Regions from separate parts of the Homo sapiens genome. Here region 2 is linked to region 1. The links come from fine-mapping of genetic effects on gene expression. A gene starts in region 1. The other region holds a variant in brackets. All regions are shown on one strand. Distances are between the middles of the regions.

Region 1 (4,000 bases):
AAAAGTGAAAGTATACAAACGTTAAGTAGATTTAGGGACTCATGGGTTTCCAGGTAAAAGAACAGTACACATACTTCTCTCCCCGAAAAATAAAGCATGAATATTTAATCTATACCTACAACTTGCTTATTTAAACTAAAAGACAATCTGAAGCAATTATATACACCTGTAAACTGCACCGTGTAAATTCAATTAACGTTGTAACTATGGAACTTCCAAAAAATAACATGCTTAATTTAAGCAGGTTCTACTAGAAATTTTGCAAATTCTCGTGTAAGTTCTAGTCGCTACAGAAATCCACACAAATAATTTAAGAAGCCATCTACACACCTGCTGTATAACTCTTTAACTTATTTCACAATGAATGAAAAATCAGCCATTTATCCAACCCTAAGCCTCACGTCACAAGAATCTGAAGACCTGATCACTACCAAACTCGCACATGCTAATATTTGCAGAAACAGTTAAAAATAGAAAGGTAATAGGTCCAAGCTAGCTTGGAAGCGATTTCTGCATTCAAAAACCCCTTTCACGGCTTTGGCCCTCTGCAAATAAAGCGGGGCGAAGGAGGTGTAGGAGGCCGATAACCCAGCTCCCACTCCAGGAGCCCAGGGCCGGGGAGAAACTGCGGGTTATCGCGGGAGGGTGGGGGGAGGCGGACAAGTCGTCAGGCCTGATAGCCAGGCGTAGCCGAGGCCTAGCTCCCCAGCTCCAAATCACTCCACCTCAGTAATGGCGTTTGGTGTCAAGTGGAACCAGACCGGGTAGGAAAGCGGCCGCCGGGCGGGGGGCGGCCAGCCCCCAAACCGACCCGGCCCCCGGGTGCGGACGGCGGGGGGGCTGCCCGCCACGCCCGGAGACTCCATCCTCCTACTCGGCCCCAGACAGGACGGGAAGGGGGAGGAGGGGGAGGGACGGAGCCGTCAGCCATTTTCCCTTACAGTCCAAAACACACAGACACGCTCTCGGGACACCGGCTCCACACACAACACGGGCCCGCGCGCCCGCCCAGCCCGGGCCGGAGGAGGGGGAACGGGGAAGCCCCAGCCTGGCCGGCAGCCGCCGAGGGAAGAGGCTCGCACACACGCACACCCCCCTCGCCCTCCTCCCCTCACCCACATCCAGCTGTTGGCCCCGGGAAAGAGCGTCGCCCCAGTGCAGCTGGCCACTCACCGCACGACACAGACGTCTTCTCACAACCAGGGCACACGGAGGCGGGAGGCACCAGGCGACGGTGGGGCTCGGTCCCGGGACGAGACCTACCCTGGGTGCATCCCAGGCCCGGGGGTGACCGGCAACAAAGTGTATCGAAAGGCTGCGGCGGCCGGGCTCGGGGCTGCGGGCGTCTCAACCAAAAGGCTGCACACCGGCGCCGGAACTCGCTCCTCGCCGCGCCCGCCTCCTCCTCCTCCTTGGCCGGCGACGGCCCTCTTCCCCTTCTCCCCTCAGGCTGGGGCTCTCGCTGAGCTCAGACGGGCTCCGGGCGGTGCGTTTCTCCTGCGTCACCTCCTCCTGCTCCTCCTCCTGCAGCGACGGCTTCACCTTCCCCTAGTCGCCGCCTCTGTCCCCGCTCCAGGCCTGGTGGCTTTGAAGTAGCTCGCTCCTCGCTCCCGGCGCCGACCCAAGCACCGGGCGCTAAGGCGGCCGCCTCCCGTGAGAGAGAGGCGGCGGCGGCGGGCTCCCGCGAGGCCCGGGAGCTGTGTAAGGCGGGGAGGGGCTAGGCGCGACAGAGGCCCTGACGGGGCCGGGTGCGGAGAGGTTGCGGCTCCGGCGGCGGCGGAGACTAGCGTCCGCAGCCGCGGATGCCCGTCCTCGTCAATATGGCGGATCCGGCAAACCAAAAAAAAAAAAACCGCTCGGCCAGTGGCGGCGGCGGTAGCGGCGACGGCGGCAGCAGCGGTGGCGGCGGCGGCGGCGGCGCAGACTCCCACTAGCCCCAGAGCCGCCCAAGACCCGAAGTTCTCCGCCCCCGTCAGGGCCCGCCCCTTTCAGGCCCCTCCTTTCGGCCCTCCCCCTGCTCCTGCCCAGCCCCCTCCCGCTCAGCTGCCCCCTCTTCTCTCCCTCCACCCCGGGCCGTCAAGGCTGGGAGAGCAGCGCGAGCCGCTGAGGGGGCCGGGCTTCGGCGCGAGCCGCCGGGAACCCGGAGAGCTAGGGTGGGGGAGGGGAAGACAATGCGGTAAAGATTGTTCGCGCAGTACTGTTTCTTCCGGCTGGCCCCTTCAGGGTCGTGCTACGGCCAGAAATCCTGTTCCATGCCCCTCGGCTCAGGAGCGGGACGAGGGCAGAGGTGGCTCTAGGACCGAAGTTGGGGAAGGGAGGCCCGAAAAGATCTGGCACACCACTCGGGAGGGGCTGGGCGGCAGGGACTGGCGGGGTGTGTGGCCACGACAGGGTTAATCGCGTGAGCCGCAGCCGCGTCGCTCATAGTTTGACTCGGGCCGCTTGTTTTTGTTCCATTGTGAACCGTAGCCCCGCCGACAAGAACCCGGATGATGACGTCACCGGCCTCCCCCTTTTCCGGGACCGTGGGGGGAGGGGCGCGGAAAGATGAGATCTCGAGACCACGCGCTGGGCGGTCGCCGCCGCGGTGCCTGGAGGTCCCGGCGGTGCAGCTGACCCGCGTCACGTGACGCACGAGCTGGCCGGGCCACTGGCTGCGGGGGCGCGAGGTCCCGAGGGCCTGGCCACCTGCTTGGCGCCGATAGGGGGAAGGTGTGGCTATCTCCCGCAGCGGAAGGAGGGGGCGTGGGGAGTGAGGTCCTTTTCCCCACCCCGCGAGGGAGGTGCTCTGAGAAACTCTTTCACACGATCATGCATCATCACTACCTCAAAGCGTTTAGGCGTCCTCAAAGCGTTTAGGCGTCCTCACAGCCTAGCTGACGGGACTGACCACCTTTTTGGCCATAGGAGCCCTTCAAACAGACCAGCAAAGAAAAAAATTATAAAGTGCCCCAGACGGCTTAGCGAATAGGCCGTACTTGATGTGGCAAGATTAGCCTCCATTGCCAGATCATCAGCACAATTCGGTGTTAGGACCCGGAAGAAACTTATGAACCCATCCGCTGTGTCATGGACTATTTTCTACATGTTTATATTCCAAAGTGCGGGCATAGGAAAAACTTAGGCTAATCTCAAATTAATGGGGTGCTTGGAACAAATCTGTACAGTCTACCTAGGATGCCCAAATGAAGAGGAAATTAACAGTTCCTAATTTACAGATTTCCTTTTGACTTAAAAAATACCTGTGGACATCAAATGGCATGCAAAATCATAGTAAAACCCTACAAACCGAGATCTATTTTATAGAGAAGAGGGTTGAATTTAGTTATGCTATGATTATATCAGTTTGTAATAAAAGACTGTTAAAAATGGAACCAAACTAATGTAGGTGACAGTGAAAGCAAGTTATTGGTATCTTAAATTTTTAAACCATTTCTCTATTTAGCACAAGATTGTTTACAAATTTTTCACCACAAATTATCTAATAGGGTATCCAAGATGTATCATTCATAGCCCTAATAACTCTTAGCATATGTTACCTTGTTTTTATAATTATTTCCATGAATCATTTGCTTCCCCACTAGCTCATGGGCTTCTAAAAAGCAGACACGACCACCCGCGTACACTATAGGCTGTTATTTTCTATTTTAGATAAGGAAACAGAAAGGGTAAATGATTTGCCCGAAGTCAGGATTGGAAAGTGTTGAACACTGGTCTTTTAACCCTATCAAAAGTGCACCTTTAACAAGGATGTCCCCTCTCACCAATTCTGTTCAATATTGTACTTGCAGTTCTAGCCTGAAAAAGAAATGAAAGGCATCCAGATAAGAAAGGAACAATTAAACTATCGCTACTTTCACATGACATGATTTTATATATAGAAAATCTTGGGAAATCCATTATAAAAAAAATAAAGCCAATAAGCAAGTTCAGCAAAACTGCAGGATATAAGATCAATATTTAAACATCAGTTATAGTTTTACACACTAGCAATAAACAA
Region 2 (4,522 bases), 130 kb before region 1:
TATGGAACAATGATGTGTGCTTTGTGAACAGGCAATATCTAAAAGAGTTGAACAGAATAGGATTCTTCTGAATGTCTAAATTTGGCATTTTTAAGTTTGAAATACAGATTCCACTTATGCTTGTCTGTGTAATAAATATTCTCTTTCTCATCTACAAATACCCAAATATCTGCAATTACGGAAAAGACAAGGGAAAAGAAGACAAACTAAATAGACAAATGAAAAGTACAATCTCCCTTATGTTAAAAGGGCCATGGATCCAATGGTGATTAAGTAAGATCACAGAAAAAAAACCTGAAACGACAGGTACGCCTGGATATAGAACTTCATTTTGGATATATGACTTTTTGGTTTGTTTGCTTTTTGGAGACAGGGTCTCATTCTGTTGCCCAGGCTGGAGTGCAGTGGTGCAATCACGGGTCACTGCAGCCTCAACCTCCTTAGCTCAAGTGATTCTCCCACCTCAGCCTCCCAAGTAGCTAGGACTACAGGCATATGCCACTACATCCAGCTAATTTTAAAATTTTATTTTGTAGAGATAGGGTCTCCCTATGGTGCCTAGGTTAGTCTCCTGGGCTCAAGCAATCCTCTTGCCTTGGCCTCCCAAAGTGCTGGGAGTACAGGCATAAGCCATTGTGCCCGGCCCCTAAATTAATATTTTAAGCGAGTATTTATATTATCCATAATTGTAGTTTACTTAAACAAAAACTTATGTACAGACCAAGTCTGCTATCTAAATTTGGTGAGTATCACAACCATTTGGGGACCCCTTTGAAAACATGGATTCCCTGACATTAGCTTTGGGGATGCTGATTCAATCAGTGTGAGAAGAGGCCTAGAAACCAGTATTTTCCAAAAGCAGCCAGATTTGGCACCACTGCATTAGGAGATTAAAAAAAAAAAAAAATCAAAACACAGATTCTGACCTGTGTCTACCACAAAGACACATGCATAAACAAAGTAAAAGGTGAAAGTGCCATGTTCAGATAAAATTCACAACAGGTTTTATGGGAAATTGTTTCTACTTCAGATCAGATTATATTTCATCACTTGACCTAAATGACTTCACAATTTAATATGATACATCAAAACAGAATTCTGAAAAACTTAAATTCTTACCTAAATTGGCATACATTACAAACAGGTTGAAATACTGCTGTAAATGACGCCCATGCTCTGAAACTTCCCTTCTCAAGAGATTTAGTACTGCTCTTAGTAAGTGATCACTCAAGCTTAAGTTGTCATAAGCCTGTAAAGGATAAAACATTACCTGTTTTACAGCAACAAGGTATATGTATACTTCTACTTGCATAAAAAGGACATGCACATATGCTGATACAGGCATACATTTATGGAAGGACTGATCACACAAACTAAACTATTTTGCTTCTTGGGAAAGGGAATGAAGATCAGAGGCGGATTTCATTATAATTTTTTACACTTGTAATTTTTTAAAAAAATCTAAGACTATTTAAAAAACCTTCAAAATAGGAAAAAATCTACTTAACAGTAAACTTATAATTAAGCTACTGCATGTAACCGAACAGAGAAAATTCTCTTACATTTTTAAAGAGCCAATAATTACTATTCATTGCCATGCAGTAATATTAAATGGAACTCACTGACATCATATTGTGTGTTTCTGTTAGGTAAACATATCAAGTGGATGCACATATGCTTGTGACTTCGACTTCCAGGAAACACAATTTATTTGTAAACATCTCATCATTTAGAAAGAAAGCTGTGCAATTACCTGACTAGAAGGTCCAGGAGAGGCAAAAGGTGAAGGACATGGCCCATCTTGCAAGGAAAAATGTGCAATAAAGACTATAAGTTTTGCAAACGCACCCCTCACTTCTGCACTAGGGCACTCCAGAAGGTATTCGGAGAAGCGATTTGAAACATTAAAAAGGACGTTATGAGCAAACCAAAAACGTACATTCTTGCTGTGACGAAGGAGAATACACAATGCATCATACCTAAAATAAAACAAAAAAACCTATGACTATTAAGTCAATAACTTGTTCTCTATAGTAAAAGGATGAGTCTCATTGAACCAAAAAAAAAAGACAAAGATCTTCCTCTACTGCTGGAGAGAACCAGCAAAGGTTGCTTCTAATATTAAAACAATAGATAAATACTATGACTTGGTCTATTCTCTCAGAGTTACCAAACAGGTGAAAGCTTGTCCTCTAAAAATCCATTAACAAACTCTTCCTAGATTCAATGACAAAATACCACCCCCTTATCTTGACATATTCCTGAAATGAGTAAGTAAAAATTATTAAATCAATGTATCATAATGGCCTCTATACTTTCACAATTAGAAACTTAAGAAAACCATTTTAATTTTTTACCCTTTTAATCGGTGTCAGAATTCAATCTAGGTAAGCTAAAACCTAATAAAT[T/G]TCATAAGTAGCTTACACTTTTCAGTCTCATCTTGTAATCTTTGGTTTTGTTTGAGACAGGGTCTTGCTCTGCTGCCCAGGCTGGAGTGCAGTGGCACAGTCATGGCTCACTGCAGCTTCAACCTCCCAGGCTCCAGCGATCCTCCCACCTCAGCCTTCCGAGTAGCTGGGATTACAGGTGTGCGCCACCATACTTGGGTAATTTTTAAAATCTTCTTTGAAGAGATGGGGGTCTCACTATGTTGCCTAGGCTGGTCCTGAACTCCCGAGCTCAAGCAATCCTCCCACCCTGGCTTCCCAAAGTGCTGGCATTACAGGTGTGAGTCACTGTCCCCCAGTCTCAGCTTGTAGTCTTTGGTGCAGGGATGTCAAAGATATGATACAAGGTAATAGAAGCAGAAGTCAGCTTCTGAATAACAAAAGGCCATGTTTAGACTAAGTAACTATTTTAATATGATTTCTCTATTGTGACCCAGAGTTTTTATTCTATATTCCAAACTTCAAACAAAATTCTCTTGGTTTAGAAAAACATAAAGCAATCTATTAAAGAAGCAAACCAAACATTAGTATAATAGGAATGAAAATCCAAAGCAATGTACCAATCACTGGCAGAGCCACGGACTACTTTCTTTGTGTGAAATCCTGTAGTAAAGAGGAACCTAGCAGCAAGTTGAATACTGATCATAGTGATTTCTTCTGCTTCAGGCAACAGGTGATCTTGCCCTATAAATAAAATGCAGATATAAAAACACATTTTTATTTTCCAACCCCATTTTCAAACAAGTCTGTGTTTCCATTAATTTTGAGAAGTCCTAAATTTGTTAAGAACCCTTCTCAGGCTACTTTAATTTAGACCCATTTATTTTTTTATTTTATTTTTTTGAGATGGAGACTCACTGTCACCCAGGCTGGAGTGCAGTGGCCATCAATTTGGGTCACTGCAACCTCCACCTCCCAGGTTCAAGCGATTCTCCTGCCTCAGCCTCCGGAGTAGCTGGGACTACAGGGAGTAGCTGGGACTACAGGTGCATGCCACCATGCCTGGCTAATTTTTATATTTTTAGTAGAGATGGGGTTTCACCATGTTGGTCAGGCTGGTATTGAACTCTTGACCTCAGGTGATCCACCTACCTCGGCCTCCCAAAGTGCTGGGATTACAGGCGTGAACCACCACACCCAGCAAATTAGACTCATTTAAAGTGAAAACATTAATTTTATGAACTTAAACATGTTGACGCCTACTATAAATTATTCTTTATTACTAAGAAGCTAAACTCTCTTGATACTCACCGGGAGGAGGGTTTAAGTAAACGCCATTACATGTAAGCAGTTTTTTCATAAACTGAAAATACTCCATACTGTACTGCATTCGGTTATGCATGAATTGTACGTTCTGTTTCCGTACACTTCTCTCAATGGCTGATGGCATAATAATCTGATGAGGTCTGGTGGTGATAGCAAGCTCTGATATATATCTTATCAACTCATCATCTTGGTCTATTGTGTCCATTCGTTCATAAAAAAGTATATAAGCATTCCACCACCTTTTCTGGCGCCTGTATGACATACGCTTCATCATGTGATCAAACACTTCTCCCATGTACTCTCCACCAAAACACTGGTTTTTCATTTCTTCGTCATCATCCATTTTACATTCTGTTACATCACCATCATCAAATTTATACCAGCGATTTCTCTCACCATCTCCACCATTCCTTTGGATGATGTAAGAATAATAATGCCCCCCACTCGCTTGACCACTGTGTACGAGCACACCCACAAGTCTGTATTTTGTGCTTCCTGCTGTCTCACTTTCAGACTGCTCACTCTGTTGTATCAACTGACTCTCTGGGTTTACATTATCCCCTTCCAGCTTTGCGACACCTGCAACTGTGTAAGGTTCCATGTCCAGCTCTCGAGGAAATTCAAAATAATCATTGAACTTGATTGCACATTCTCTTTCCCAGTCATAGTCAAATCGCTTTAGTTGTATAGCAAGAACAGGAGGTAATTTTTTAATCAGCAAGCGCTTTACGGTATCAACCTAAAATAAACAAGACAAAGTTACCAGATGTTCTATTAAAATCCACAGGAAAAAAAAAAAAACCCCAAGC

Alleles and levels. Positions count from the first base shown, and alleles are read on the strand shown. Sizes are in standard deviations (SD) of each study's normalised expression.
With allele G in place of T in region 2, the expression in skeletal muscle of the gene that starts at base 1,838 in region 1 is higher (small effect, 0.11 SD a copy in GTEx).

The links. PIP is the estimated chance that this variant, and not a neighbour inherited with it, causes the effect. A credible set is the group of variants that fine-mapping cannot tell apart.
Region 2: its variant is the best candidate, but not a certain one, in a credible set for the expression of USP9X in skeletal muscle (GTEx, PIP 0.53).

Annotation. Positions count from the first base shown.
Region 1 is chrX:41,083,283-41,087,282 of GRCh38, reverse strand. It overlaps USP9X (ubiquitin specific peptidase 9 X-linked), which reads right to left and starts at 1,838. Exons shown (of 45, transcript NM_001039591.3): 1 at 1,174-1,838. RefSeq lists silencers at 644-1,103, 1,804-2,183, 2,614-2,683 and enhancers at 1,228-1,765, 2,304-2,843, 2,593-2,887.
Region 2 is chrX:41,215,829-41,220,350 of GRCh38, reverse strand. It overlaps USP9X (ubiquitin specific peptidase 9 X-linked), which reads right to left. Exons shown (of 45, transcript NM_001039591.3): 35 at 3,699-4,452; 36 at 3,008-3,131; 37 at 1,754-1,979; 38 at 1,120-1,249. Among named protein-coding and RNA genes, the nearest start is that of LINC02601, 58 kb to the left of the region's middle. The variant T/G (reference allele first, on the strand shown) is at 2,409.